Regions from separate parts of the Homo sapiens genome. Here regions 1, 2 and 4 are each linked to region 3. The links come from fine-mapping of genetic effects on gene expression. A gene starts in region 3. Each other region holds a variant in brackets. All regions are shown on one strand. Distances are between the middles of the regions. Region 1 overlaps UBE2W (ubiquitin conjugating enzyme E2 W). Region 2 has its middle 27 kb from the start of LINC01617. Region 3 holds the start of UBE2W (ubiquitin conjugating enzyme E2 W). Region 4 overlaps UBE2W (ubiquitin conjugating enzyme E2 W).

What was found. PIP is the estimated chance that this variant, and not a neighbour inherited with it, causes the effect.
Region 1: its variant is the best candidate, but not a certain one, in a credible set for the expression of UBE2W in whole blood (INTERVAL, PIP 0.75).
Region 2: its variant is the best candidate, but not a certain one, in a credible set for the expression of UBE2W in lung (GTEx, PIP 0.51).
Region 4: its variant is the best candidate, but not a certain one, in a credible set for the expression of UBE2W in thyroid (GTEx, PIP 0.74).

Annotation. Positions count from the first base shown.
Region 1 is chr8:73,802,226-73,810,335 of GRCh38, reverse strand. UBE2W (ubiquitin conjugating enzyme E2 W) reads left to right here. Exons shown (of 6, transcript NM_018299.6): 5 at 4,610-4,685. Among named protein-coding and RNA genes, the nearest start is that of STAU2, 59 kb to the right of the region's middle. The variant A/G (reference allele first, on the strand shown) is at 3,075.
Region 2 is chr8:73,902,286-73,910,395 of GRCh38, reverse strand. It overlaps the pseudogene GYG1P1. Among named protein-coding and RNA genes, the nearest start is that of LINC01617, 27 kb to the right of the region's middle. The variant G/A (reference allele first, on the strand shown) is at 3,572.
Region 3 is chr8:73,874,534-73,882,643 of GRCh38, reverse strand. It overlaps UBE2W (ubiquitin conjugating enzyme E2 W), which reads left to right and starts at 3,782. Exons shown (of 6, transcript NM_018299.6): 1 at 3,782-3,836. The coding sequence starts at 3,822. It overlaps LINC01617 (long intergenic non-protein coding RNA 1617), which reads right to left and starts at 3,662. Exons shown (of 3, transcript NR_147034.1): 1 at 1,947-3,662; 2 at 482-617; 3 at 1-314. RefSeq lists silencers at 3,550-3,839, 3,980-4,029, 4,050-4,309 and enhancers at 3,696-4,573, 5,050-5,099.
Region 4 is chr8:73,789,146-73,797,255 of GRCh38, reverse strand. UBE2W (ubiquitin conjugating enzyme E2 W) reads left to right here. Exons shown (of 6, transcript NM_018299.6): 6 at 3,141-8,110. The coding sequence ends at 3,154. Among named protein-coding and RNA genes, the nearest start is that of STAU2, 46 kb to the right of the region's middle. The variant AG/G (reference allele first, on the strand shown) is at 3,139.

The sequences.
Region 1 (8,110 bases), 72 kb after region 3:
TAATAAATTGGAAAGTTATTTTGATACCTTTCATTCCAAATAGAAGTTTTACATGTTGAATGGGGTAGAAGCCAGACTTACTGTTTTATATTCTTTTAAACAGGAAATGTACGGTATTTTCTTAAAGCTGATTTTATTCCCAAAAGCATGCACAGGTAAAAGTATACAAGAAATTCTTTTTGTAGATTTCACAGTGGAAAGCCTCAGAAAAGTGCATCATAGCTTCCTTCTCCCCTCTGCCAGCTCCCACCCGATCAACCTGTTTCAGGGAATTTTTCAGGAACCAGAGCTTCCCTGTCCTAATGATTAGGTTGAAGGAGGAAGACCAGTTTACCAGTCGAATTTTCAGGGCGTTTCTTCCTGTTCTCCTTTATTAATCCACAGATTCTATGTCTGATGGAAGTGGGGGGAAAAAAAACAAAAAGAAAAAAAATCACTTAATTAAACTTAAAATGTAGGCTGGGCACGGTGGCTTACACCTGTAATCCCAGCACTTTAGAAGGCCTAGGCAGGTGAATCACCTGCGGTCAGGAGTTCGAGACCAGCTGGCCAACATGGTGAAACCCTGTCTCTACTAAAAATACAAAAATTAACTGGGTGTGATGGTATATGCCTGTAATCCCAGCTACTCAGGAGACTGAGGTAGGAGAATTGCTTGAACCCAGGAGGTTGCAGTGAGCCAAGATCATGCCACTACACTACAGCCTGGGTGACAGAGCGAGACTCCATCTCAAGAAAATAATAATGAAATAAATTTAAAATATACATATAAATTTAGGATACCCTTTAAATGTATCTGAATCCTCTGTACACTTCTGACACTCTTGTCATTCCTGCTTAAGGGTTAGTATAGCATAACATTTATGTATTTCTACATTTTAAAACCCCTCTTAAATCCCTATGAGGGTTTTCCTTTTGCATTCTGTTTAAAGGAGAAACAGCTTTGCCCTAGAGGTTAGGGAGTTATTTGTGTTTTACAGTTTTCTTTCCTTTTCTCCAAATTGAACTGATTGTCATTTTTATTAAATTAGTATTTGGAGAACTTTTAAGATAATAGTTCATTTTTTAATGATAGGTTATTTAGAATCTGAAGCACTCTAAGCCACAGCATGTGAAATAATAGGTTAAATTGGTTTTGTTTTGTTTTTTTACTCATTTGTTGCTTATTGCTGTTATATTTTCTCCTCTCACCCACCCCCAACACACACACACGTTTTAAACTTTTATGTGTAGGGCAAAGCAGTTTGTGGGTACAAGGCCTTCTATGTTCCTGTTACGCTTAAAGACTATAGAAAGGTGAGACGGTAACAACAGTATTTAATAAGAAAGTTATTAAGAGATTAATGTCAGCGATATCTGTACATAGTCTTGCATGTGCCTCATGATTATTAGATTTTATTTACATTTAAATATAATGATTTATTATTAAAAACTAGAGAATGACTATATTCTGTGTACTTCCTTCATCTTCCTCTAACCCTCACCATTCCCCTTACATTCTAGTTGTCTGCTACTAGTGTTTCTTGTACACTTAGTATAAGACTAATCATTCCATTTAAAGCACTAATAAACTATGTTTTTACTGTAATAGTTGTATAATATTTAACCAAGATGATAATACAGAAATCAAGATTTCCATGAAATACGATAAAATTCAAAAAACATTTACTAGGTACCTAGTATGTGCTACTTTTACTGTGCTAAGTGATAAGTTACAAAGATGAAGAGGAAATTTGCCTTGGCATTGAGACGATCTGGCATTAGAGAGATCTAAGCTCCAAAGAAACCTTAAAAAGTGTTTTAGGCCAGGTGCAGTGGCTCACGCCTGTAATCCTACTACTTTGGGAGGCCGAGAAGGGTGGAGCACTTGAGGCCAGGAGTTCAAGAGCAGCCTAGGCAAAATGGCTAAACCCTGTTTACTAAAAATAGAAAAATTAGCTGGGCGTGGTGGCGCATGCCTGTAGTCCCAGCTACTTGGGAGGTTGATGCACAAGACTTGCTTAAACCCAGAGGCTGAAGTTGCAGTAAGCTGATATCACGCCACTGCACTCCAACCTGGGTAATAGAGCAAGACTCTGTCTCAAAAAAGAAAAAAGAAAAGTATTTTAAATACCCATCTACACGTTTTATTATTATTAAAACGGGTAAATTTTATTCCGTAGTGGACATGGTTCTATGGGCTTTACTTTGTTAATTCTACTACTATTAAATATTTTACTTTAGGTGTTTGGGACTTTAGTCATAATTCTTCTATTCCAATTTCCTTTTACACAGTCAGGAGTGGTTCCATAAACTGAAGGTATTTAAATCCAGTATGTCATTAGATTGTAGTGGATTAAAGATAATTTCTGATATTGAGATCACAGGACTTTCAGTAAATTCCACTTTATTTGCATGCCTTTGTAATATATTTACATTGTTCAAACTTTTCAGTTTGTATCCCATTCCTAAAACAATTTCGTAAGACTTCTTTTGTATAGTTTCTTTTCCAAGAACTGTATCTCCCTGATCATTTGTCAGGGAGATAAATGATTTAAGCAAATAGAATTGAGTATTTCTTTTTTCTAAATATGTATTTTTTGAAGACTTTTCTGATGATTCTTGGGTTCTAATCAACATATACATAAAATGAGTTTGTGAAAGTATCTGCTCTAGTAGTACCAATTCCATATGAACATAGATTTAACTTTGTAGAATCATCCCTTCCTTGAAGTAGTCAGGCATCTAATTTCATAATATTCATTTTTTAGGAATTTTCTCAAATTGTGTCCACAGATTGACTTGGAATACCTAAATGTCTTGACTGTCTTATGCTCTAATGTTTCTTTTTGTTAAATGAAATTACTAATATTAACACATAAGAGCATTGTGAGGCTCAACTAGACTGATAGTTACATATATGAGTTTTAGAAGTGCCAAATGGACTAACTGTTTTCCTTCCTGCTATCACAGAGTCCTACTCACGATTGCTTTCTGGTTAGACTTTCCTTAAATGATGTCATACCAAATTCACTTATTTTCATTAGCCTCAGGTAGAGGAGAGGATTCCCTTAATCTCTCATTTTCATTAGCTT[A/G]GCTAAGCAGATTTAAGTCTGAAAATAAATCCTGCATATACACTATACAATATTTAATGATAGGAAAATAATCAAGTTATTGGAATGATTCCGAAAGGCATAAAGGAGACTAAAGGATAAGGATATCTATCATAGTATCTATAAACTTTAATATAGCTTTAATATAAATTTGATGTTTCCAAGTCTTTGTAGAGGGTAACATTTTCTTTTGTCTAGGCAGTATGCAACAAATTTCAGGAAAAGTCTCTTCCATAATATATCTTCAGTGTTGTTGGCATCACTTTATCTGCGGTAGCTCCCTTGCGGAGCTGCCATATATTTCTCATATATTGTTCTAGTCAGGGCATATGTTCAGCAGAAAGGCCAATTATAGTAGAAATGCCAATATATATTTTTCCCATTTTTTCTCTTAAATATTGTTTAGAAACTGAATCTTCTGGTCTATCTTTGATGGTATTCTATTACAGTAAAAACAGTTCTTTGTGGAGGTTTGTACATTGCTATACTTCTCCCAACAAATCTAGTTTAGTAGACTTTTCTGTTTTGTTTTGAGACGAAGTCTGGTTCTGTCACGCAGGCTGGAGTGCAGTGGCGCAATCTCGGCTCATTGCAAGCTCCGCCTCCCAGTCTCACGCCATTCTCCTGCCTCAGCCTCCTGAGTTAGCTGGGACTACAGGCGCCCGCCAACACGCCCGGCTAATTTTTTTTTTTTTTTTTTTTGTATTTTTAGCAGACAGGGTTTCACCGTGTTAGCCAGGATGGTCTCGATCTCCTGGCCTCGTGATCCACCCGCCTCGGCCTCCCAAAGTGCTGGGATTACAGGCGTGAGCCACCGCGCCTGGCCCTTTGTTTTATTATTTATTTATTTTTTGAGATGGAGTCTCACTCTGTCACCCAAGCTGGAGTGCAGTGGCACCATCTCGGCTCACTGCAACCTCCACCTTCTGGGTTCAAGCAATTCTCCTGCTTCAGCCTTCCAAGTACCTGAGATTACAGATGCCCACCACTGCGCCCGGCTATGTTTAAATTATTATGTGAATTTGACTTTTCTCATCAGTCCTTTTTCATTCCCTTTATAATTTATTTAATTTTTTGTTTGTTTGTTTTGAGACGAGAGTCTCGCTCTGTTGTCAGGCTGGAGTGCAATGTCACAATCTTGGCTCACTGCAACCTCTGCCTCCCGGGTTCAATCAATTCTCCTGCCTCAGCCTCCCAAGTAGCTGGGATTACAGGCACGCACCACCATGCCCAGCTAATTTTTTTGTATTTTTAGTAGAGACTGGGTTTCACCATGTTGGCCAGGCTAGAACCTAACACAGACCACACTCAAACACGCTTATTATTCCTTTTTTAAATTTAGGTGTTAAGCATACACATTTCCTGGAATACATTTATAGTTTTTATTCTTTTAGATATACTATTCATGTTTATATTGTTTTTTATGCATTCTGTTAATTTTTCTTAAGCTTTTATTAAAACTGTCACCCTCTCAGTTTTTCTGTTTTTCAACCTATTTAAATTATTTTTTGTTTCAGAGACGACCACCGGATAATTCTTTTTATGTGCGAACATGTAACAAGAATCCAAAGAAAACAAAATGGTGGTATCATGGTAAGCAGTTTGAATTTGTAATAACTTTTTAGCATTTTGATATGAAGATTATATATATTTGCTATAAGACTTGGGAAAAAGAAGAGAAGCTATAATTGGTGTTATATTTATGTTATATGAAGAAAATTCTTTAAAATATTCTAATATATTTAATGGATGAATTACCCTAGTTTTTTTTGTTTTTTTTTTTTTTTTTGAGATGGAGTTTTGCTCTTGTTGCCCAGGCTGGAGTGCAATGGTGTTATTCTTGGCTCACCACAACCTCTGCCTCTTGGGTTCAAGCGATTGTCCTTCCTCAGCTTCCCAAGTAGCTGAGATTACAGGCATGTGCAACCACACCCAGCTAATTTTGTATTTTTAGTAGAGATGGGGTTTCTGTGTGTTGATGAGTCTGGTCTTGAACTCCTGACCTCAGGTGATCTGCCCACCTGGGCATCCCAAAGTTCTGGGATTACAGGCGTGAGCCACCACGCCCAGCACTACACCAGATTTTTAATGGGGCAAACAAAATCATAGCCATCATAAAAGTAAAATGTAAAATTACTTTGACATTCGGAGACTCTACCATTGTATTACAGAAAAGAAGTTGTTAATAATCTTTAGATCAAATTAGAACTATTTACTGGGAGCCCAGGCATGGTGGCCTACGCCTGTAATCCCAGCACTTTGGGAGGCAGAGGTGGGCAGATCACTTGAGGTCAGGAGTTCAAGACTAGCTTGGTCAACATGGTGAAACTTCGTCTCTACTAAAAGTACAAAAATTAGATGGGCGTGGTGGCTTGCAGCTAATTCCACTGGAGGCTGATGCATGAGAATCACTTGAACCCTGGTGGCGAAGGTTGAAGTGAGCTGAGATCACGCTACTCTACTCCAGCCTGGGTGACAGTGATGGAATGAGACTCTATCTCCAAAGGAAAAAAAAAAAAGAACTAGTTACTGGGAAGTCTGTTGTTTGAAATAGAAGTTTTGATGCCTTGTTTGTTCATTTAGTTCTGGTAGTATTCATGGCCGGGAGGAGGCGGGAGTCACAGTAAGGGGTACCTCATTAAATTAGAAAGCTCTCTATTCTAATCATTATCCCTTAAAAAAAAAAAAGTGAGATTCTGCTGATTGTAGTTGTATTAATAAAGTACTCTCTAATTTTAAATTTCTATTGTATTTGTTGGGATGGTAATGATAATTCAGAGCTGCTAGTATTTCTAAACTAACCTTAATGCTTCCCTGAAGAGTTATTTGAAATTAAAAACAAAAAGTCTGTATTCTTCAATGTAGTTTTTGAAGCAAGTAAACAAAAACCATCCCCTGTGATTTTTGTATACATAAGAGTATTGCCTTTGGGGTTTTTTATGTGTGTGGGTTTTTTTTTTTTTTTAATGTTAACCTGATAATAAATTAGAACTAGCAAAAACTAATTGAACTATGACCTTCTCCCCGTATCTTCTATCCAGTGTGAAGCCTTCTGTATCCTCACCTAAATTGAGTGAATTAAAAACTTAAAAGTTCCCCAGGTGTTGAACGAAAAGATGACCCGAGTCAGTGCAATAGAACTATGCCAGTAGTTAAAAATTAGAAAACACAAAGAAGTGGCCGGGCGTGGTGGCTCATGCCTGTAATCCCAGCACTTTGGGAGGCTGAGGTGGGTGGATCACGAGACCAGGAGATTGAGACCATCCTGGCTAACACGGTGAAACCCTGTCTCTACTAAAAATACAAAAAATTAGCCGGGCGTGGTGGCAGGCGCCTGTAGTCCCAGTTACTCGGGAGGCCGAGTCAGGAGAATGGCATGAACCCAGGAGGCGGAGCTCATAGTGAGCGGAGATCGCGCCACTGCACTCCAGCCTGGGCGACAGAGCAAGCCTCCGTCTCAAAAAAAAAAAAAAAGAAAAGAAAAAAGAAAACAAAGAAATATGCTGTTCCTGAGAGACAGAAATGTGAAAATTTGGGGTAATATCAATAAGAAATACATATGACTTAGAAGAAGAAGAAAATGGCAAAACTTTAAGAGCTGTGAAATAAAAATACGTGTATTTTACAAACTGTAGGTTCGATGGAGTTCATTACAAATCCAGTGAATGATTGTGGGGGTGGGAAGGGAGATAGGTGTTTGAAAAGTTTGGGAAAAAAATAGTAGATGAGAAGAACAAAGTTTGAATTTTGAGCCATAAAGGTAATGGAGAATTAATCTACCAGACAGGACACTAAAAATACTAATAGAAGAACAGATCATTGAAATACAGTTCCTCTTATTTAGGCCCAGTTGAATATAACATTTGAATATATGATAAGGCATTACAAATCAGTGATAAGGGGAAGGATTATTTAGTAAGTAATCATCTTGGAAAATCTGTAATCCTTTGGAGAAGGAATATTTTCACTGCATAAAATATTTCTTGTGGGTTCAGTATTTGTATTTATTTATTTTTTATTTATTTTTTGAGATGAAGTCTCGCTCTGTTGCCCAGGCTGGAGTGCAGTGGCGTGATCTAGGCTCACTGCATCCTCTGCCTCCTGGGTTCAAGCAATTCTCCTGCCCTCAGCCTCCCTAGTAGCTGGGATTACAGGCGCGCCACCATGCCCAGCTGATTTTTGTATTTTTATTTTTATTTTTGTTTATTTATTTATTTATTTTGAGACGGAGTCTTGCTGTCGCCCAGGCTGGAGTGCAGTTTCGCAACTTCGGCTCACTGCAAGCTCCACCTCCCAGGGTTCACACCATTCTCCTGCCTCAGCCTCCCGCGTAGCTGGGACTACAGGCGCCCGCCACCTCGCTCGGCTAATTTTTTGTATTTTTAGTAGAGACGGGGTTTCACTGTGTTAGCCAGGATGGTCTTGATCTCCTGACCTCGTGATCCACCCACCTCGGCCTCCCAAAGTGCTGGGATTACAGGCATGAGCCTCCACACCCGGCCAATTTTTGTATTTTTAGTAGAGACGGGTTTTGCCATGTTGGCCAGGCTGGTCTCGAACTCCTGACCTCAGGGTGATCGCCTGCCTCAGCCTCCCAAAGTGCTGGGATTACAGGCGTGAGCCACTGCGCCTGGCCTATTTTTAAAATATAACCAAAAAAATGTTTTTTTTCAATGTTGGGTATCAGCTCTCTGGAGAAAGGAAGAATTTCTGAATTTAAAAGGAATCACAAAGAAATTAAACATTCAATTATATGAAAATGTACAGCTTCTTTAACTTTAAAGCACTATCGTTATAAAGTTTGAAAAAATTTTGAAATGTTTATAGCTTATTAAAAATAAACCGTTTATGAAAGTTACTTAAGGATAAAAAACAAAATAGGCAAAAAAGTGCAGCTCAGTAAAATAATTACCAGTTTAAGATTTTGAAACAGTTTCTGAATCTGCAGAGTTTTATAAAACAAATGCAATACTGAAGGGGAGAGTAAAGGGTAGAATAAAATTGTTTTCATACTTGCT
Region 2 (8,110 bases), 28 kb before region 3:
TTGGCAAAAGCCGGTGCTTCCAAGGAACCCCCGCAACTGTTTTAATGTCTTAGGGCAAGGATAAGCCAGTATAGGCTGAATTCATTATTTGCTGAGGGCCCTGGTTCCTCTGGCTAAGATTAGGCCTAGATATTTGACTTGTAGGCAGATCTGGGCCTTTGATTTAGACACCTTGTACCCTTGATTAGCTAGAAAGTTCAAGAGATCTAGAGTAGCCTGCTGGCATGAGGCTTCCGAACTGGTAGCCAAATGTAAATCATCCACACACTGAAGGACCAGAGTGCCTGGACTTGAGAAGTAGCCTAGATCTTGGGCCAGTGCCTGACCAAACAGATGAGAGCTTTCCCTAAACCCTTGAAGAAAGACCGTCCACATAAGTTGGGATGTGTGGTCTGTGGGATCCTCAAATGCAAAGAGAAACTGGGAGTCAGAGTGCAGGGGAATGCAGAAGAAGGTATCCTTGAGGTCCAGAACAGTGAACCATTCTCCTTCCTCTGGTGTTTGAGAGAGTAGGGTATAGGGGTTGGGTACAGCTGGACATAGAGGAATTACTGCCTCATAAATGAGTCTAAGATCTTGCACTAGTCTCCACTGACCATTCAGTTTTTGTGCTCCTAAAATTGGGGTTGCAGGAACTGCTGCATTCCTTACTAACCCTTGAGCTTTTAAATGTCAACAATATCCTGTAATCCTTTATGAGCTTCAGGCCGGAAGGGTATTGCCTTTGATAAGGAAAAGTGGTGAGGTCTTTTAGCCTGATTTGAACTGGGGTGGGGGGCATTTTTTGCCTTTCCAAATTGTCCTTCCAATGCCCAGACTTCAGGGTTGATTCCCTCCTCCAGTAGGGGACAACTAATGGGTAACTTGTCCCCCATATTCATGTAGCTAATAGCTCCAGCTTTGGCCTAATAAGGGTGTGGGACTTTCAGGCATAAAAAGAAAGGCATGTGAAAAGAGCAAAGTCTTCCAATTACAACCAAGGAGGTGGGAGAAATACCTGGTTACAGACTGTCCCAGGATTCCTCAGATGGTAACGGACTGTGAGGACAGCTGTCCGGGTCAGGAGATTAACACTGAGAAGGCTGTGACAGTGTCCGAGAGGAAGTCAATTTCCTGGCCCTCAATGGTTAAACTTACCCAGGGCTCAGTGAGGGTGATGACATGAGCTGGCACTTGCCCCAGTTACCTTCAGTCCTGTTGTTGGATCATCTGGTTGGGGGCTTCGGGCCCAGAGAACACTTGTCCTCTGGGGCAGTGTGCCTTCTAGTGATTGCCTTAACATACTGGACATGGGTGAGGGGGTGGCTTGTTTCTCATTGGAGAATCTTTTTTAAAGTGTCCCTTCAAACCACACTGATAACAAGCCCTACTGGGTGATTGGCCTGCTCCATTTTCTGTCCTGTCTGAACCACCAATGTTTGTTTGTCAGAGGGCCATGACTAAGGCTGCAGCCTTTCTCTTATCTTGCTTTTCCTTTTCGGCCTGTTCCTTTTGGTCCTTGTTATAGAACACTGAGGTTGCCAGGTTTAATAATTCCTCCAAATTTTGTTCAGGGCCCAGGGCTAGCTTTTGTAGCTTTCTCCTGATATCTGTGGTTGATTGGGTAATAAACTTATTTTTTAGGATCAATTGACCCTTGAGGGAGTCGGGTGACAGGGAAGTATATTTTCTTAAGGCCTCCCATAGCCACTCGAGAAAGGCAGTAGGATTTTCTTCCTTTCTCTGAGTTATGGCGGACATCATTGAATAATTCATGGGCTTTTTCCTAATTCTTCTTAGTCCTTCTAGAACACAGGTCAACAGATGTTTGCAAATCCAGTCCCCATGATCTGAGTCAAGGTCCCAGTGGGGATTCATACTGGGGACGGCTTGCTGATCGGTAGGGAATTTGTCCCTTTCTTCAGCTGTCATTCTATCATTTACTCGACTAAGATACCAGGTATCTTCAAACTGTCAGGCTGCAGCTAAAGCCGCATTCTTTTCATTAAAGGCCAGGGTTTGATCTGACAGTAGCATGTTATCTCTCCAAGTAAGGTCAAAGGTTTGCCCTAGACCCTGTAGGACATCTATATACCTATCAGGATCATCTGAAAACTTCCCCAGATCTACCTTGATCTGCTTTAAATCAGAGAGGGAGAAGGGGACGTGTACCCGGGTTGGGCAAAATTCCCCTCCCCCTACAGCTTGAAGGGCACATAACCAATAGCCCAGGGGTTTTTGTGGTCCCTTGGAGATTTCTTTGCTTGTTTCCTTCTGGGTGGGAGAGATTAGAGGAGGCTGATCATTAATAGGAAGGGGACCTGTAAGGAAGCTAGGATGTAGGGGTAAGCTGAGAGGTCCTCCTGTGGAATGTAGATTGCAAGCTTTGTGTAGTTGTGGATTATCCTTCAATGAAAAGAAAGTTTGGACATAAGGTATTTCACTCCATTTGCTTTCCCTCTTACAGAAAAGGTCAAGCTGCAGGATAGTATTGTAATTTATACTTCCCTCAGGTGGCCATTTTTCCCCATCAGAGAGAAAATATTGGGGCCAGGCTGTAGTGCAGACAAAAATAAGCCACTTCTTTTTCAGGGTTTATGGGCCAAATTGGTGCCAATGGCTTAGGATGCATTTCAAGGGTGAGCTTGTTGATGCCTGAGTGTTTCCCATCTAAAACAGAAAGAAAAAACCACCCGTGGTTTTTGTCTGTTTTTCCCCCCACCCAAGAACCCACAACAGTCCCTGGACCCTGCCGTTTGGAATAGTTGCGCTCACTGAAGCAGCAGTGGAAACCCTTGTTTTCCTCCTACAAAGAGGAAGGTCAGATTTAGTGGCCCTTACCGACACATTCTTGAAAACCTGTACACTTGCCTTTCCTCTTAGACCACAAGAGGACTGAGAAAGGTCAGATTTAGTGGCCCTTACTGATGCATTCTTGAAAACCTGTTAGAGTCCTAAGTGTTTTTTCCTGTTGTTATTGGGACCTTACCCTTGTCCTATAAAGATGACATGCCTCAAAATGGAGTGGAGGGCCATAACTTGAGGGAGGGAAGGGATCTCCAGGGTTGGAAGGGTGACGCCTTTTGTTCTCACTTCTCATCATATGAATAGGAAGCATATCCCCCCAATTTAGGAGTCTATAATTTCTGAGGCTCCCCATATGCTAGCTTTGGGAATAGCCTTTGTTAGTTCTGCTAGTCTGAGGAGGGATCCTAAAAGGATAGACGGTATTCCAGATAGTCCCCCCTGACGGGGCTCTGGTCAAAAATTATGTGCCCCAGGGTGCTTATTTCCCATTGAACAATTTGGGTTCTTTCTGATTGGTGAGCCTGGGTGCCTAAAGAAGGGAACAGAGTCCCAAAATCTATATTAGAAATCATCCTTATAGAAGAAACTAGGGAGTGATTTTCAGAAGCAGGACTAGCCTCAGAGAAGAGAGGCAACAGGAAGTTTGTCTGACAGGCGTTAGGACCCAGGAGGCAATGGTCATGATAGATAGGATAGATAGGCGAGTCTCACTTGGGTGACGTAACTTTGAGAGCTCTGCTCAGGGCTGCAGGGACAACCAACTTCTTCTTGGGACCCCAGAGCT[G/A]AATGGCTTTCCTCTCTGTTGACCCTCAGCTCAGCCTAGAAGTGCAGGAAAAGTGGAAGCTGGTTCCAGGCAAACCAACGCTCCTGATTCCGAAGAGTCGGGGGTTGTTGAAGAGCCCTTTCCCAGATAGCCTGAAACCCATGTCTTTAGTCTGGCAGCGCACTAGTCACTTTTAACTGGCCAACAGGTGCCCGGTGTTTAGCTCCTGAATTCTAAGGAAAAATAGGACAGAATAGCAAGTGAAAGGGGTCCGATGGTACCCAGACCATTGCATTGCAACATCGCAGACGAGCCCCCAAGATGTGTCCAGAGTTGTTTCCTGCCAGTGGGTTCGTGGTCTCACTGACTTCAAGAATGAAGCCGTGGACCTTCGCACTGTGTGTTACAGCTCTTAAAGATGGCACGGACCCAAAGAGTGAGTGGTAGCAAGATTTATTGTGAAGAGCAAAAGAACAAAGCTTCCACAGCATGGAAGGGGACCCAAGTGTGTTGCCACTGCTGGCTGGGGTGTCCAGTCCTTATTCCGTTATCGTCCCCTCCCATGTTCCATTTCTGTCCTATCAGAGTGCCCTTTTTCCAATCCTCCCCATGATTGGCTACTTTTAGAATCCTGCTGATTGGTGCATTTTACAGAGTGCTGACTGGTGCGTTTTACAGAGTGCTGATTAGTGCATTTTACAGAGTGCTCATTGGTGCGTTTTATAGAGCACTGATTGGTGCATTTTACAATCCTCTTGTAAGATAAGAAAGTTCCCCAAGTCCCCACTTGACCCAGGAAGTCCAGCTGGCCTTACCTCTCACTGGGATTACAGGTGTGAGACACCGTGCCTGGCCAAATTTTGTATTTGTGTAGAGACTGGGTTTCATCATGTTGGCCAGGCTGGTCTTGAACTTCTGACCTCAGGTGATCCACCCGCCTTGCCCTCCCAAAGTGCTGGGATGACAGGCATGAGCCACTGCACCCAGCCTGAACACATTTTTTAGCAGCTGGGCAACAACAGATATCAGAAAACACTTGCCATTTATTTATAACCTAAGCAGCATCTCTATATACTCCCATCTCCCAGCATTTAAAGTGTTTGGTGTAAGTGCCAAAGTTGTGCATTTCCTGGGACAAGTCAAACCATGGAATTATATATATGATCCCAAAACAAAAAGTGTCAAAAGTGATTCCCATGATCCCAACATAACTTATCCAGAGTTTCTCATCCTATGGTGGAACATGTTTACCAGCAACGTTTTACCTCTGCTTCAACAATTTGGCCTTGTCAAAGACACCTGCTCATATGTAAATGTGGAAGATGTCTCTGGAGCCATATCACATCTGTCCCTTGGCGAGATCCCAGCTATGGCACAGCCTTTTGTATCCTCAGAAGAATGGAAGGAGCAGTGGGAACAGGGCCAGGCTGATTATATGGGAGCAGATTCCTTTGACAACATAAAAAGGAAACTTGACACCTACCTCCAGTAGAAACACTGCATTTTCCTGTGGATGCATCCACTTCACAAGCCTTGTTTCAAATACTAAGTATCTAGAGCTGGGCTGAGAAAGTCTGTTACAGTTGGCAGAGGTTTTCACTAAAATTTATCAGATGAGAGGTTTTTGTAGGACAACAGGTGAGAACTGGGCAAAAGTTGTGAAGCAGCAATTCTGTTATATGGACAGTGTTCTGCTTTTTAATCCTATTTAGCTCATTTCAGAAATTCTCACTTTTGTTGATTGCCAACATACAAGGTAAGGGAAACTTAATATTAAGCTGTTAAGATGACTATAACAACTCTTAAAATCTGCAGAGCCTGGTTCCCAATCAGTCATGCCCTTTGGAAGCAGACATGGCATCTGTCCCTTGCTTGCTTGCTGGTTGTACCTACTTTTCATTAGACCTGCATTTTAGAATTGTCCAGTGCTGCCAGAGTCAGTAATTGTAGTTTTGCTTTCAGGTAAAGATAGCCTATATTAACACTATTGAGTGATTCATAAACGTATCAACAAATAGCATTCACTCATTTTATTTCCTGCTCTTAGTGTCTGAAGATGTTCACCAGTTTTCTATGTACAGTAAGATACCATAGACACCATGCTAAAATGCTTTTGTTCAGTTCTGTTTATTTGAAAATAGCAGTGTGTTCTCTGATGGTTACCTGTGGTGGCACCCTGTATGAAAAATGAAGAAAAATAAAATAAAGGATGTATCTCTCATTTTGTAGAGATGTTAAATAATTAAGCTTGTTTGATGTATTAAATTTATAGAAAGTCATTATTACTGTCAAATAATAAGTCATACTAGATTTTTTTCAGTTACATTTATGGGTATATTATTGATATAAATTTTCTAGAGTAATATAGAATTCTTAAAAGTCTAGTATATCATCAGTCATAATTTTGGTTATTAGGTTGTATGTCTCAAAAATGAGTACATTTACTTGTCAATTGCTGATTATAATGAATGTTCATCAGATTTTAAACATGGCTAGTCTGTCTCTATCATCCATGGTTTTGATTTTTCTCTAGTGGCATCTAATCAGATTCATGGAAAAGATTCTAACAAGTATTCCTAAGACAAGTTTCTAACAACTTTAAGATCAATAGACTAAATAAAAGTTTTCCAAAACTCTGATAAATTCACAAAACTGCTAATTAAGATCAAAGGAAACAAAAATTAATTTCATGAAATTGAATAACTGATGAAGATAATGTTTTTATGACTTTTATTTTAAAACTTGGTTTTTTACTTAAACTTTTTGTTTTCCAGATTTAAATAAATTTTCTTTTAAGCTATCTATAGTTTACAGCAATTTGGTAAAGTATACTTTTTGTGAACAAAGGTGGAAGCATGTGCTTTTTCTCCCTACTTGATCCCTCCAAAATTCAGAAGTTATTTGTGAGTTTTCTTATGGCAATATGGTTATTTGCATAAGTTCAGTAAAAATCTGTTCTCTCTTTATAACAGGATACCATTGGAAATATGGGTTATATTACCAATGCCTTGACTAAAATATCGTATTTAAAAGCGTGAATAGAATACCTGGTTTCAAGAGTTCTCAGCCTTACAGTGACATGAGTAAACTCTTATCACTTCCTGGCAGGCCCAGGAACCTTCACACTGGAGGAAAATCTAAAGTCTTCCTTGGTTTTGGCTTCTTAGCCCCAAGAAGTTTTTAAATCTGACATTTCTATGTGATCAATGTAGAGAGGAAATATTTCTAAAAGAAAAACTATAATACACCTGTTATTAGATTGTAGCCCTGTGCATTGTTTTTGAGTTCTTATTATCTACCTATAGCCAAGAGTAGATTCTAAATTCTTCTACATTCCTCCAATCCAACTTTCTTCCATGAAAATACTAAGAACAGGGCCGGGTGTGGTGGTTCACGCCTGTAATCCCAGCACTTTGTGAGGCCAAGGCAGGTGGATCACTTGAGGTCAAGAGTTCAAGACCAGCCTGGCCAACATGGTGAAACCCCATCTTGACTAAAAAAAAAAAAAAAAAAAGCAATTAGCAGGGCATGGTGGTGTGTGCCTATAATTCCAACAGCTACTTGGGAAGCTGAGGCAGAAGAATCACTTAAGCCCAGGAGGCAGAGGTTTCAGTGAGCTGAGATTGCGCCACTGCTCCAGCCTGGGAGACAAAGCAACACTCTGTCTCAAAAAAAAAAAAAAAAAAAAGAGAGAAAATACTAAAAATCAGAACTTTTCTGTTCCCGAAGCCCCATAATTCAAAACTAGATGAATTTTAAGAATAAGTCTTATGACTGATATATGGACCACATAAAAAGTTCACCACACTGCTCAATGCCATCATCAGAGATATTCATACTGCAAACCAGGATATTTTCATGCTATAGACCGCTTTTCTCAAGAGGTCAGAACAAGACTCCATATCATGAGACTCTTTTCTTTTTTCTTGTTCTTTTCTTTTTTTTTTTTTTTTTTTTTTTTTTTTGAGACAGGGTCTCATTCTGTCGCCCAGGCTGGAATGCTGTGATGTGGCGTGATCTTGGCTCACTGCAACCTCTGATTGTTGGGCTCAGGTGATCCTCCCACCTCAGCCTCCAAGTAGCTGAGACTACAGGTGTGCACCACCGGGCCCTGCTAATTTTTCTATTTTTAAAAAAGATGGGGTTTCTTTATGTTGCCCAGGCTGGTCTCAAACTCCTGGGCTCAAGCGATCCACCCACCTTAACCTCACAAAATGCTGGGATCACAGGTGTGAGCCAGTGTGCCCGGCCCATGAGACTCTTAATGCTTACCTTTCCACTTGACAGGATAACAGTCGTTTGATTCATTCAATTGGTTGCTTTTAAGCCTAGTTCATAGCTCAAAACCATTATGCTAACTGGGATTGTCATAACACTATTAGTTTTACTTTATATTTTACCTTTTAAAATTTGTATCTGTTACCTGTTAAACTTTTGCAGAAGTACAACTCCTAACAGAATAATTCTGGTCCTGAACTTTGAGGTTATAGCAAAAACTACAGAACAGACAAAATTGGACTTAACAATAAACTCCAGGTACACTTAGCCTGACAGCCACTC
Region 3 (8,110 bases):
CTGACTTGCGCATTTTATTGATAAGGAAAGAAACCCAGAAAGATTAGAAGCCTTACCTAAGCTTGTTAATCACAGAGCTAAGATAAGAATACAAGCCTTGGATTCTTACTTTGGTACCTTTTCCAAAATCCAGTAACAAACTGTTGGTGACTGAACTGTCTCCATTTCTCTGCTGAGATCAGCCCCTAGGAGACTAAGAACAAACTACTGGGTGGAGGCATAGACTCAAGCAAGGACTCATCAATTCTGCCTTTTCATGCTTCAACAAACAAATGTTCACAGGACTGCTTCTGACTTCCCAGTTTAATAAATCACTAGAACAAAAGCATTCATAAATCACATTACATTATCCATTATAGCACTTACCCAGTAGTCCCTTTGTGGGTCCTTTAATGTTACTATTTAGTTTCCCATATTTCCTTTTCTTTACTAGCAGAAAGTCCAGATGCTAATTTAGACCTGTCTCAGGCTCTCTCTTTACCTTGGAAGGGAAGATCTCAGGCACATACACAGCTTGGGTATGTCCAGATTTTTTTTTTCTTCCAGGGAAGTGGAGATGCAGGTAGTTTGTGAGATGAGGGAGAATCTCCTCGTAAGCTGATGGACATTTCTAATAGCTGTGGAAATGAAAAAGTGAACATCATTATCAAATCTAACAAAAATAATAATTCCTTAATATCCTCTAATATCTACTCTATATTTAATTTTCTCCAGGTGTCTCAAAAATATCTCTTTTACAGTTTGTTTGAATCTAGATCCAAACAATGTTAACATATGCATTTGTTCAATGTACTCTTACGTGGCCAAGCATGGCCTGTAATCCCTGTAATGCCAGCACTTTGGAAGGCCAAGGCAGGTGGATCACTTGAGGCCAGGAGTTCGAGACCAGCCTGGGCAACATGATGAAACCCCGTCTCTACTAAAAATACAAAAAATTAGCCAGGTGTGGTGGCACATGCCTGTAGTCCCAGCTACTAGGGAGGCTGAGGCAGGAGAATCACCTGAGCCCGGCAGGCTGCAGTTGCAGTGGGCCAAGATCGCGCCACCGCACTCTAGCCTGGGTGACAGACTGAGACTCCGTCTCAAAAAAAATATATATATATATATAAATATATATATAAATATATAATATATATATTTTATATTATATATAAATATATATATTTATAATATATATATAAATATATATAAAACTCATATGATGCTATTAAGAAGATCCAGTAAGGATATGGGAAACTTTAACTTCATTATTGCCGAACTATTTTCCAAAGTGATTGCACTAGTGTCACTCCTATAGAGTTTATGAGAGCTCCACTTCCTCTCTCACTTTTGGTATTGTCAGATATTTTTTTTGAGACAACAGGGTCTTGCTCTGTCACCTAGACTGGAGTGCACTGGCATTATCCTGTCAGACATTTTAACTTTTGCCTATCTGATAGTAATGATAGTAAGCCTCGCTCTGTAGAAATATGAGCCTAGTCTTCAAACATGGCATAATAGTGTTTTAGATATTAACATTACATGCTCACTGGAGATAATTATATACCCCCCATACCATCTGTAAGTCACTGTTTTGGCTCCTATGTCAGGATCTTTTTATTAAATATTAACAAAAGAATGGCCGGGCGCAGTGGCTCACACCTGTAATCCCAGCACTTTGGGAGGCTGAGGCGGGTGGATCACGAGGTCAGGACTTCGAGACCAGCCTGGCCAACATGGTGAAACCCCCATCTCTACAAAATATACAAAAAAATTACAAAAAATTAGCAGAGCGTGGCGGTGTGCGCCTGTAATCCCACCTACTCGAATCACTTGAACCTGGGAGGCAGAAGTTGCAGTGAGCCAAGATCGCGCCATTGCACTCCAGCCTGGGTGAGACTGAGACTCCGTCTCAAAGAAAAAGAAAAAAAAAAGAAGACAGGTTATTATGTGCTATTTAGTATTACCTAGAAAGGATATGACTGGCATTGACTTTTCCCTCCTGAGAAGATACTTCTAACATATATGAAACCCAAGGGACCAGATATTGGATCCACTGTGATGAGTGTCAGAATTCTTGTAACCTCTTTTTTCCTTATTAGTATCTGTCATGCCAGGTTGTTGGCTCTGATGATGTCATAATGCTTTGTTTGTAGGGTCATCCGATGCTACTGTTTCCACAGGAACAATCAGCTTTTAGGCAAAGTGAACCTTGGACGGTAAAAGCTGATCTTCTGAGGTCATAGGAATAAATATATCTCAAAGAAAATACACTGGAAACTTCTTCTTTAAGTTTTCCTCTTTCATTGGAATATGTGGGTTTCCTCACTGTTGTAATGTTGATGACACAACAAGGCTAACACCGGATATGCTTCTGGCTGATTCCGGTTTACCAAGAGCATCCAAACATCCCTCAAGGACACAGTCATTTTGCACAACAAAGGGAAACTCCGCTCATTTCTGGCATTAAGGTGGACATCTGAGAAAGGGGAGGGTATACCACCATAACTTCTCTAGTGATGAATAGTGTTTAATATTATACCATAGACTAACTGGCGTATTTTAAAGATCTTTTTCCTTTTTGAACACATTTCAGATTAGAGAAGTTCCAGAGAACGTAATCTATTTTAAGAGTGTGAAAGAGTGATATTCCACATTGCTTTTATATCTTAAAGAAATTTCTAAAAAGAAAGCCGAGTCAATAAAATGACAGATTTTAAGCCTTCATTCTGGTAACATAAAAGCCTTCTACTCATTGTGTCTGCCACCTTAATTTTTAAAGATAGAGCATGAGGTGTAAGCTTTTGGCTTCCATTTTCCTCTTATAAACCAATGACATCTTCAGTTCCAGAATAGCTTTTTAAAAACGTGACTTCTGATAAATGTTGGCAGAACTGGTGCATTCCTAAAATAAATTATGTATGCTCAGCTTTCCCTACCCAAGTTCATCCCTAAATGACCACAAAACTGCCCACCACGAACTATGCTTAAGAGAAGTCTGGACATAATGGTATAAGTGTATATAACACGACATTGGTATATTTAAAAAAAAATTCATGCCTAGGGTCAATTCTGATAATCAAATTTAGACTGCTGCAACAACCGTAACTATTGTTGATATATGCGCAGTTTAAAAGTGAAGGGCGGGGGTAAGGGGCAGAAACTGCACACAACAAACTTCCAAATTTTGTCTCCCTTTTCAGGCAAGTTTCAGCTCCACAAATCTAAATACCCTCGCCTTTAAAATATCAGTGTCGTTCTGCTCTTAAATCCTCATCCCGTTGTACAAGGAAACCTATGTCTCTCTTCCCCAAATTAAGAATACGAGAAGCCTTCCAGGTCTGCAAATACCAGAAAGCAGCTGCGCATGAAGTTTTATGGGGCCCCAAGGCTCTGAGAGTGGGCTTGGAGGTATGGAAAACACATCCCAAGGGAAAAATCTGTGAACCGCACAACTGTGGTTGGAAACGAAATAGGAAAAAAACTGCGCGGAACCGGACGTCATCAGCATTTCGCGGTACACACGAAGAAAACAACCGTAGTCGGGTCAAAACTGGAGCCGTGTCTCCTCAGTAACGAGAGTAAATGGGGGCCCGACGCGTGAGCGGCCAGCCGGACTGAGACAGAAAGTACTCAGAGCGCCATTTACCGCGCCCTCGCCCCGCCCCGTAGCCCCTCCTCCCGTCCGCCCTGCGCGCCAGCCAATCCCCTCGCTCCATCCCCTTCCCATCGCAGACCCCGCCCCCGCGCCCGGGATGTTGAGCCCCCGCGGCGTGACGCGAGCACGGCAGCTCCTCCCCCTGCGTCTCTGGCCTCGCCGGTCTTGGGGGGATGGTTCCATCATGGCGTCAATGCAGGTGAGAGGAGTTTGCTGCATCTGGGCGGGCCAGGGAGCCGCCGAGAGAGTGCCAGCGTTCGGGCGGGGGTGGCGTCCGCGATTCGGGGACACCCGGGCGGGTTCGGGATCGGTCCGGGTGGCCTGTTTTCCCTCAGCTCAGGGCGTCGGGGGAGGGGTAAGAGGCGGCGAGAGGCGTTGTGGGGGGTGCGGTATCCGTCGGTCGAAGCGGACACCAGCCGGCCGGGAAGTTGGGTGATAAAGGAGGGTTGGGGAAGAAAGGGCAAAGTCTGGCGTTGGCGGTCTCAGAATCGGCTCCCCGCACACACACACGGGCGCTGCCAGTCTGCTGCCCGCCAGCCCCAGGGTTGCCTTTACCCCCGCTGTCCCTGGCCCGACGGAAACAGCTGCGCCCGCGGTTGTTGCCGGGGCAGGGGCGGCGGGGGGCTGAGTGTGCGGGAGCCGAGAATGCGTCTCCGGAGAAGGCGGCTGGCTGCGGACGGCGCTTAGCGGCCTCTGCTCCGGCCTCCCACGCCGGGCCCCCCAGACTGCTCGGCCCCGTCCCTCTCTTCTTCCCTTTGACTCTTAATCCTGTGCCCGTGGGTATCTTCTATTTCCATCAGCCTCGGTATTCTCGCGGACATTCCTCCAGCAGTCCACTGTCTCCTTCCTCTCGAAGCTGCCCCGTGTCCACCGCCTGATGGGCGATCTCCCGAGAGCCGAGTCCTCAGCCCCCTTAAACCTCTCGGGATAGCTTGCCTTCTATTTTGTTTCCCACTGCAAGGCCCCACCCTTGCGGTCGCGATAAGGCTATACATCTCTTTGCCCTTATTCCCAGACCTTTAGTGGAACCTTAGTTTGGTAGGAGGCGTTTGTTAACCTGTGCCATATCCCCCCGACTTAGCAAGGCGTGGTTTTCTGGCTTTCCAACTTAATTTACTCCTTTTTCCCGAATCTAGGGAGTTGTGGGTTTTTTTGTTTTTTGTTTCCAGGCAAAGATGGCAACCACAATTGTAGTTGTGCAGGGATTGAGTGCGTTATCTGTAGCCTGCATTTAATTCACAGGTGAAGACTAGCGGTATCAAAGGCATTGGAAGAGAAAGTAGAACGCTCAATAGGAGTGTCAGCTGAGTACCCTTTAGCGTTTTCATAATATCCCCTTGGGTAAAGAGACCACATTTTCTTAGAAGTGTTTTTTGCTTTTGTTTCTGGAAGAAGCAAGTCTCTGTTCCTCCTCCATTTTTTTTTCTTTACTCTGCTAAAAGTGTTTTTCTTCCCTTTTCTGCATCTTCTTCCTCTTTTGTACAAATATAGCTTTGCTTCACATTTACTCCTGTGCTTTTATGTTATTCCCCTTTCAACCTGTTTTCCTTACAATATTCTCTTTACCTTGCTTCTCCCTCTGGACTTGCCTGCAGAACAGAAAAGTTTTATGTAACATTTCTAGTTGAAGAGATATCACGAATGGTGCAGGGAAAAAACAGGAACAATTTCAGGAAACATTATACTTTACACTAGTCTCCCCAGAGACGTTGGAGAAGTTTCGTCATTTGAGGCCAAAAAAGGAACAGTGGAATGCTAGTTGAACAGTAGATGCAATAGGCTACATTACCACTTAAAGATTTTTATCTGTGTTAAGATTAAAACATTTTTTATGACAAGTTTAAGATTATTATCTGTATTAAGATTAAAACATTATTTGAGGCTAAACATTAAGATTAAAATCCACAACACTTGTATTTGACAAGAGAACGTAGTGTGTCATCTCGTTAGATTTAGTATCTGGAAAAGGCAGATTTGTTTGTAAGAGAGAGGTTGGTAATCTTGAACTTGAACTTTACATGGTGTCTTTTTTCTTTTTTGAGATGGAGTTTCGCTCTTGTTGCCCAGGCTGGAGTGCAATGGGGCGATCTTGGCTCACCGCAGCCTCCACCTCCCGAGTTCAAGCGATTCTCCCACCTCAGCCTCCTGAGTAGCTGGGATTACAGGCATGAACCACCACGCCCAGCTAATTTTGTATTTCAGTAGAGACGGGGTTTCTTCATGTTGGTCAGGCTGGTCTTGAACTCCCGAACTCAGGTGATCCGCCTGCCTTGGCCTCCCAAAGTGCTGGGATTACAGGTGTGAGCCACCGTGCCTGGCCTACATGATGTCTTAAGAATTGGAAACAAATACTTGATTGACAGTGCAATAGTGCATTTTTCTGTGCCCTAAGTATTACTATCTCAGACTCTTACCACCCTTTTAAGTTTTTCCTTCACCTTGTTCCATCGAAATCTTATCACTCTCTATTCTTCTGTGTTTTCTGGTTAGAGGAATGGAAAACGGATGCTTCCTATATTTATTGAAAAGTCTTTCCCTTTTTATTTGTATTTTAAAATATCTAGTGCAGATTTGCTGGTAGTATCTTTAAGAATATTTTAATATATATGTCAAGCTTTTTGAAAGACAACCCTACTTTCTGTGTGGTTATTCTGTATCTTTGTTATACAGAATTTATATCCTGACTATCTTAATGGCAACATTTGGCTCTTTTAAGACAACTAGATTATACATAAATCTTCAATAAAATTATCAACTTTGTTTATTCACTGAGCCAGTTATCTTTTGGGGGACCTCTATGTGTCAGACACTTATCTAGTTGCTGTGGTTATAGCAATGAACAAAAGCAGACAAGATTTCTGCCCTCATGGATTTAATAATAAATAGTCTCATAAGAAGAGACAGATAAGAACAGCATATTTAAGTTAATTGTGTTTTGTTCTTGTTTTTTGTGTTGAGATGGAGTCTCGCTGTGTTGCTCAGGCTGGAGTGCAGTGATGCCATCTTGGCTCACTGCAACCTCCGCTCCCAGGGTTCTAGCAATTCTCCTACTCAGTCTCCTGAGTAGCTGGGATTACAGGCGCTGGCCACCACGCCCAGGTAATTTTTTTTGTGTTTTTAGTGGAGACTGGGTTTTGCCATGTTGGCCAGGCTGGTCTTGAACTCCTGACCTCAGGCGATCCACTCGCCTCGGCCTCCCAAAGTACTAGGATTACAGGTGTGAGCCACTGCACGCGGCCAAGTGTGTTATTATATTAGAAGGTGATAGTGCAGTGGAGAAAAAGCATGGAAGAAGACTAGGAAATTGATCATTTGGGGATTTCGATTAGGAAAAAATAAGCTGTAACATGGAATGACCATGTCCTTAACCCAAAAAGCTTTTAGTAGATTTATCTAACCCACACCAGGATGTTGCTGCTGCTGCTGAAGTTACTTAAGCTCTAAGAGGAACTGTATTTTTTTTAAAATGCCATATTATACAAATGTAACATGGGATTTCATTACTTGGTAATGAGTAAAACAAGTAAGGGTAGACTTTGAATTTCTTATTGGAGAGTATGTATTTTAAAGTTGAGCTAGTAACTGCTTTAATGTATTCTGTCAGTGCGTCTCAACCATCTTTTAGGTTCTGCCCACATAGAAAGTAAGTTTTGAATAGTACACTAAAGTAGATGAGATTGGGAGGCTAGAAGCACCTGGCAGGCAGCACCTCATGAAACTCCCGGGATGGGAGATCAATATTCTGGCACACCTGTAAATGCTGGGGACGCTCTACTCCCTAATATTGCTAGAGTTCTGCCATATACAATTCAAGATAGTGGTTTTCAGACTTATGTGATCCCTTTGAGACATTCTTTACTCATTTTCTTTTTTTCTTTTCCTTCCTATTGTTTCTTCCTAGAAAAAAGTAATGTATCACCAAGTAAGATTACAGTTAAATTATGTTTTAAGAAACCTTTTCTTTTTTGGAGACAGGGTCTCACTGTGTCACCCAGGCTGGAGTGCAGTGGCGCTGTCTCGGCTTGCTGCAGTTTCAACCTCCCTGGGCTCAAGTGATCTTTTCCATCTCAGCCTCCTGAGTAGCTGTGACTACAGGTTTTTGTATTTTGTAGAGACAGGTTTCACTATGTTGCCCAGGCTGGTCTGGAACTCCTGGGCTCAAGCAGTCACCTGCCTTGGCCTCCCCAAATCCTGGCATTACAGGCGTGAGCCTATGTGCCCAGTCTTAAGAAACCATCATTAAGAGAATGTTATATTTGTGGTGATACCTAAAATTGATAGGAGTTAAACAGATCTACATTTAATTTTGGTAATTCTAAAAATCTTTAAATATTACATGAAAAGTTTCTTGTAGCAAATTTTTAGTTTTAGCGTTTTAGGGACTGATTATTTGGTAGAAACTTTTATCCCCAAACTGCAGAAGCATTCTTTTATTGAAGTGAATTTTTATGTGATTCTAAACATTTTTGAAAG
Region 4 (8,110 bases), 85 kb after region 3:
TTCCATGATAGTTGGAAAACTATATGATAGTTTTTATTCTCAGGAGAAAACTAAATGACCTTCTTCTAATATAGTTCTTTCTCATTTACATTTCTCAGAAGCCCAGTGAAGTTAGCCATGGTAGGTGTCACCTCTTTGAAACTGGCAGCTTGTATGTTATATTTGAAAGTGTAATTTTAGTAGAGGCTTCTGAATTTCCAGGAAAAATATAAATGGTTAATAATTAGATTTTTCTTCAGGCCATTATCTTGTTACAAATGCTTTAACCAAGAGATTAAATATACCATTCTTTTACCACCTTTTGTCAGCCTGTATTTGTCTTGACCCAAAATGGGTTACTCTGATTTTTTTTATTTTTTATTTATTTATTTTTGGTTGGGGGGTGAGTTTGTCCTGGTATCCAATAATACTTTCATCTGGCTAGCAAACTATGTTCTTTCTAGTAACGGATAAGTTTTTTGCTTCTTAGTTATGGCCATCCTATTTAGAAAAAGGATGGCGATGGCTTTGGCTCATAGTTGTATCTATACTTAAAGTTTGCTTATAAACTCTTGATTACATATAGCCATCATGGATTCGTAGTCCCGCAAGTCCCTGTTGATCTAGCTGTTACAGATCATTTGTTTCTTCAAAACGAGGGTATTCAAAGGTGGGTAGTATCATATCAGTCAGAAACAGGGATTGGGATCTGGAAAGTAGCTTCACAAAGATTTCCTAATCATTTTGGTAGCACGTTCTACAGAAAACCTACTATACTAAAAACCTTCTGCAATGAACAAGTTAGTAAATAAAGATGCATTTGTGCTACCACCTGTCAAAGATGGTATGTCTTTGGAGATACAAGTTTATTGGTAGTTAACTGGATAACATTATGTTCAAATTGAATTTTATCTGTCACTTTTCTTATTGTATATATTGTTATCTTGTATCACCTTAAAATTTATCCCCAGTAGTTTGACATATTAGGTAGAATTTTAGTGCCATCTTTTAGCTTAGAGATTTGAGTATGATTAGTTTTAGTGTTAGTTTCAGCGACCAACCCTATTGTTACTCTATTGCAGAAGCGATGTTTTAAGGAACTTATTAATATTCCTAAGTTTGTTTTATATCCATAACAAGTATATCTTCTCTGTCTGTTTCAAGTACCACAATAATTTAAAGAACATCCCCCTTTTTTTTTTTTTTTTTTTTTTTGGAGATGGTGTTGGCTAGGGATCACGGCTCACTGCAGCCTCAACCTCTGAGACTCAAGCGATCCTCCCACCTCAGCCTCAGCCTCCCAAGTAGCTGGGACTACAGGCATGCACTACCATGCCAGGCTAATTTTTGTATTTTTTGTAGAGGCAACATTTTGCCGTATTGCCTAGGCTGGTCTTGAACTCCTGGGCCCAAGCAGTCCATCCACCTCAGCCTCCCCAAATGCTGGAATTACAGGCGTGAGCCACTTTGCATTGCCAAGAAAATTGTGAGTGAACTTTAGAGGATATAAACTACTTGTTTTCTTAAAGATACTATTCTTATTTATTTTAAGGCGTCTAATGAATTAGGGATGATTTATTTTTAAACTCCAGTCTGTTTCCCCCTTGAAATTACTGGATCATGGAATACTCTATGAGTTTGCCCAGCTTAGAAGTCAGATTTTACTGGTTTTTAATTAGCAGTATATCAATTCTAACATGAGATAGTGTATTAATCTGTTTTGTGTTGCTCTGAAGAAGTACCTGAGACTAATTTATGAGAAGAGAAGTTTATTTGGCTCACAGTTTGGAAGACTGTAGAGAAGCATAGTGCTGGCATTTGCTTCTGGTGAGGCCTCAGGAAGCTTTTACTCATGGTGGAAGGGTGAAGGGAGAGCAGGCAAGTCACATGGCAATAGAAGGGAGCAAGAGACAGGAAGGAGGTCCCAGCCCCTTTAACAGCCAGATCTCATGTGAACTAATGACTGCAAGGAGGGCACCAAACCATTCCTGAGGGATCTGCCCCCATGACCCGAACACCTCCCCATTAGGCCCCTCTCCAACATGGGGGATCACTCATTTCAACATGAGATTTGAAGGGGCAGATATCCAAACCATATCAGTCTGTAAAATATTTTGACTAGGATTTCAGAATTTTTTCCTTGAGTGCTTTCACAACTCTTGGCCACCAGTCTTAGTTTCTTTATGTAGCTTCCTTCTGAAGAATAACTCATCCTCAGAATAAATCTTTCAGATATGTTTTGTGAAATAAATTTTGTAAAATAAATAATCCTAAAGTTGTCTGTGTTACATATATATGTGTTGAGGCTACCAGAAGTTATTATTAAATAATTTCATGAGTTTTTTAATGACCCCATTTGCATATGTATCTATACTTGCTGAAAGCTTATTTTCTTTTTTTTTTTTTCTTTTTTTTTTTTTTTATGAGACAGAGCCTCCCTCTGCCTCTCAGGTTGAAGCGATTCCCTTGCCTCAGCCTCCTGAGTAGCTGAGACTACCGATGTGTGCCACGACGCCCAGCTAATTTTTGTATTTTTAGTAGAGGGAGGGTTTCACCATGTTGGCCAGGCTGGTCTCAAAACACCTGACCTCAAGTGATCCGCCCGCCTCGGCCTCCCAAAGTGCTGGGATTACAGGTGTGAGCCACCGTGTCCGGCCTGAAAACTTATTTTCTAAAGGGAAATTAATCTTAACTGTTTATTGATTTGGAGATTGTATCTCATTGGTAAAGAACAGTTACTTCCTTCACAGTCTAAAGACAAATTGTGTATTATTCTGTGTTAAATAGCATGGCACTGTTGATCAGGAGTTTACTTCTGTCTCATTACAATGTGAACTTGTTGCCCATAAAATAATTCTCTTAAGATTGATACATCCTGACTATGTACTAACATGTCATGTCAGTTTATTATTTTAAATAGAATGTGCTAATAACATATCATTTTAAGGTTTATGTGAACTATTTCTCTGAAAGAATAAAAATTTGTCACTGTATAATTGAACATATATTGCACTTTGTATTCACAGGTTTGGGGGAGGCAGATCAGACATGTAAACTATGTACTTCTTGCTAATTGAAATTATTTCTACATTAAACAGACTTGTAGAATTTACTTATACATGCTTGACTTTTTAATTATCTTTTTTCTCCTTTTCTTAA[AG/G]ATGATACTTGTTGATGCCACTGTTATCATCCTCCTAGCAGAAGATAGTCCTACTGAGAAAATGAGCACTTTGATCATTCAGTCTTTGAACTTTAACCTTTGACTGGAAGTGACCTATAGGCAATGAAGACTACTTCCTTTTACTGCATTTTTACTCGTGTGCATTCTGGGCGCATGTTGATCGCTGGTTCAGTCCAGGCAACTGACATGCTTTTATTAGTCATACAGTATTAATGCAGGTGTCAGGAAATGTCAAATATAATTCCATTTTTTATTTTTATTTTTTTAAGCTTTTGGAAAAGCTCCAGGTCCTCATGTATTGTGCAATAACAATGACTTCCTTGGCGGTTTTGGTACGTTCATTGCCGGCAATGGGCGTTGTAACAGGAAAAGTTTTCATTAACTCCTGCCATTCAATGATTAATGCATGATAGGGCCTATGAAATGAACTTACTGGTTATAGTGGGAATATAAATAAAGTGAGGGATCCAACATTACTTTAAAAGTCACCCCAACTGTTTATATTTGGATTCTATGCACTGTGATCCTAAGGTTAACAGCATGAATTAACATGCGTCTTTAAAGGACTGTAATGAAAGATCATTGCATATTTATTGAATTGTTTATATCTACTGTCAAGTTGTTTTGACATGGAAGATTTTCAAGTAACATTGGCAGAGAGGTACAGTATGTTATCCCTATGGTGAAAATAAATTAATTTGTTGTATATAGTTCCTCAATCTCTGAAGTAAAGGTATGAGTAATATAGGGTATGAATGGTTTAATCAAGGCTTTATTTTGGAAGTAAGAAAAATGGCAGTGATGATTAAATTGCTGCAGTCCATAATTTGGGCTTGTTATTTGTACATTAAAGATTTTTTCCAAGTAAGTTACACTCTGTTAACTTCCTGCTAGCCATCAGCATGAGCCCTACTGCCTAAACACTATTTCATTTATTTATGTTTGGAAACCCCGTAAACATTTTTGTTTGCAATCTTGTTTCTTTTGTTATAAGTCAAGTTTGAATGTTACAATACTTTTATTGAAACTTTTGTTAAGTTTTTTCTTGTAAATTTTCTTTACTTGTGAGTATCATCTTGTCCTTTAATCCTGTACCCTAAAATAAGAAATACATTTTTGACAGAGGCTTAATGTTTTAACAAAAGAGTGTGGACATTTTTATTTTAAAATTTAGGCAAAAGTCACTATCAAATGGTTGCTTATTTGTCTCACACAGCCATATAGTTTTTCCTGGAGGGTTTTGTTTTGTTGTTGTTGAAAAGACTTTGCTTACAGCTAGATGAAACTTTCTATAGAAAAAAAAAATTGTTGAAAGGTCCAGTTCTCAGTACCATGTGAGTTAATGATACTACAACTAAGTTCTTTTTAAAAAGTGATTAATGTATTTTATAAATTACCTTTTCACATATGCAAAATCTGTTTCTACTACAATGTTATTTTTACTAATGCCTTATTGTTGCACTCTTTTTGAAATATCCTGCAGTGAATATATGAATCAATTTGGGCTTAAAACTGAAAGCCAGTTGGCTGAAAGGTTTGAAATACGTACCCCAGTAAAACCATTCAATCAATAATTGGTAAATAATATTTTAAAATTGTTTTTAATCTGTATAGATGACATTTTGTAGCTTTGTACATGTTGTTAATTAAGGGCATATAATTTTACACTCAAAGTATAATTGCTGAACTCAGGGGTGGGTAGACTTCAAAAATATGTCTGCTATAGAAATAACTTGAAAAAAAAAATTAAAACCGTGGCCAGCCACCAAATTGTGGACACTGTTTATATACTGCTAGTTAACAATTACCACTTTTAAAAAATTATAACCGTTTTTGTTCTATCTTGACTAGATAAATTCTCACAATGATCTCTGTCAGTTTTATTAGTTGGCCTGTTTAACCAAGACAGAAAGTCTTTGAATTACTCATAGTTTTAAACTGCTTTTAATATGAAAATTGCAGCTGTAAATTATGTATTTTCATATTTTGCGTAACTGCTCTACACTACTGTTTGACTTGATCTTCTTCTGGGGGTTAGGGAGAAATCTGTCTCCATATTGCTGGTTCTCTTACCAAAATGCTTTTATAAAGAAATGACCGGTGACATTTATTCACCAAAGGAATTAATATACTGAGTCAAAGATTAACAATGCTATACTATAGAGTAATAGGTCATATATAGCCTCAATTGAGTTTTTTATGACAATATTTTAACATACCTCTCTCTCTACATATAAATACCATAAAGTAAACTAAAATGACACAGAGGAAAGTAGAGGAAAATGAAATAATTTCGGTACATCTTATGGTTTAAAGAGTAGAAAATAAGATGAAATATCCTAAAATATAGGAGCACAGACATTTAAAATTCATAATCAGGCTAACAACACTCTCTTGAATTTAGGAATCATTGAAAACTCCTTGCACTTAGATTTAATTTATATGTTAGTTACATTATTAAAAGTCATAAGGCATTTATCTGAGTCATTGCTCTACAGAGAGCAATTAATGGCTTGTAATAATAAAAAGAATATTTCTCTGTAATGCATTGTTGAAAGACAACCAGAATATCAAGAAAATGTATATAGGAATATGCTACTTGCCTCCTCCCTGCATTTCCTCGTGGGGCACTATTTGCGACATAGGCCTACAGAATTAGACTTTCATACTTAGAAGATAAGGTACACTCTTCTTCTTTTATTTATTTATTTATTTATTTTTAGGCCATTCTTCTGGTTTGCCAAATTCTATTAAGACAGTGATACATTTGCTTCCTTATTTATGCATGCTTAGATCATGAACATGATGCCCTTCTTTTTTTTTTTTTTCTTTGGTCAAGTAGGGATTAATGCCATAGGTTTAGAGAGAAGGATTGTTTTCAGTTTTTAAGAGAATTTTTTAAAAATACATTTTATGGTTCTCTTAAGGAATTAATATTCACTTCTGAAGGACTTACTTGTAATATATAATTTATCATTTTAGCCAGCAGGGAAATAAATCATTTTTAATCCCCAGAAGAAAGTGCTGGAAATAGCTTCTATATAGTCAGCAGTTCACCTGGAGAAAGATCTTAATTCCTTGTTGTTTTGACTAGGAATATCAATATTTGGTATAAAATAACTAGAATAGTTTATTACCTTTTCCCTCATGAAATTTTAAATATATGCAAATATATATATCATTAGATTCCTGTGGTGGATAATAATTTCTTCAGATTCTAAAACAGGTGTCTAGTGACTGCTTAATTGTTTCCAAGTTGCATCAAAGATGAATTGGTAAATAATGGAAATGAGTAGTGATATGAAAATGGTTATGTAACTACATATTACTTGTTTCTGGTAATCAAGTCTTATTTTTTAAAAGCCTATTGTTTTTCAGAATTGAGATATTTAAAACTTGTTATAACTTCTTCCTAAAAATAGAAGAGAAGAGGAGGTACTGTGTGTTACAAAAATTTTTTTAAATAAAGAATTCAGTGTCACTAGTTCTAAGCCTTTATGGTTACTGCTGCTTATATTTCTTGATCTCACTTTCATTAATTTTTTTGTACATATCTTAGCTGAATGCTTAAAATTTACAATTATTTGTAATTGTGTATGTAAATTGCTTTTCAAAAAGAACTGAAGCTTAACCATATTCTTCTTTTCTGAGGATTCATTATCAGAATCAGCTACTATACTGTTCTGTGTTATAGTAATGCCGTTACTGCCTGTGCATGATTGAGGTCTGTGAAGAAGGTGTCTTTTAATCTGCACCAACTGGCCCCAATCCTCTTTGTAGTCCTTTTTAAATTGTTTTAAATCTGTCCTTTATTTTTCTTCCTATTTTTCTGCCTCTTCCCACTGATGTCCAATGTGTCAGTCTTCCGCAGTTTCCTTTTCTCACTTCTAATTTATTCTCTCTTTTTTTTTTCTGAGGTTAGGGATTCTACAGAAGGACGATTATTAAAATTATGCCATGAATTTTTGAAAAATTTAAAATGCTCTCCTACAAATAAAATACATGGAGTTTCTGATACTAATTTCAGTTTGTCAGTAGATGGCTAAATTTGTTGAATAATTGACTACTTGGTAAATGAGCTGTTAGCTGTAATTAGTTCTTTAGTACTAATATTAAGGAAATTTTGTTATTTTCGGATGAGGACTCTCCCAAAGCCAAATTATTGTCCAAGCAAATTATTTATTTTTTCCATTTAAATTTCTAAGTCATTTTGAGATGTGGAATGATTATTTTTATTATTTATTTATTTATTTATTTTTGAGACGGAGTCTTGCTCTGTCACCCGGGCTTTAGTGCAGTGCACGATCTTGGCTCATTTCAATCTCCACCTCCTGGGTCTAAGCGATTCTCCTGCCTCAGCCTCTTGAGTAGCTGGGATTACAGGCATGTGCTGCCACACCTGACTAATTTTTAGTAGAGACAAGGTTTCACCGTGTTGGCCAGGCTGGTGTTGAACTCCTGACTTCAAGTGATCTGCCCACCTCAGCCTCCCAAAGTGCTGCGATTACAGGCATGACCCACCACACCCAGCCTGGAATCATTTTTTAAAAATAATTTGTGGGAGACTTGCTTTCTCAACATAAATTGTGTGTGGGTTGTTTTTTGTTTTTTGAGACGGTCTTCCTCTGTTGCCCAGGCTGGAGTGTGCAGTGGAACAGTCATTGCAGCCTTGACCACCTTGGCTCAAGCAATCCTCCTGCCTCCCGGGTAGCTGAGTCTACAGGTGTGTGCCACCATGCCTGGATGGATAGAATTTTTTTTTTTTTTTTTTTTTTTTTTTTTTTTTTTAAAGACACGAGGTCTCACCATGTTGCCCAGGCTGATCTTGAATTCCTGGGCTCAAGCATTCCTCCTGCCTCAGCCTCCCAAAATGCTGGGATTACAGGTGCAAGCCACCATGCCTCGTCTGTTTGCCGATTTAAGACAGGTTTATGTACATCATTATCATTA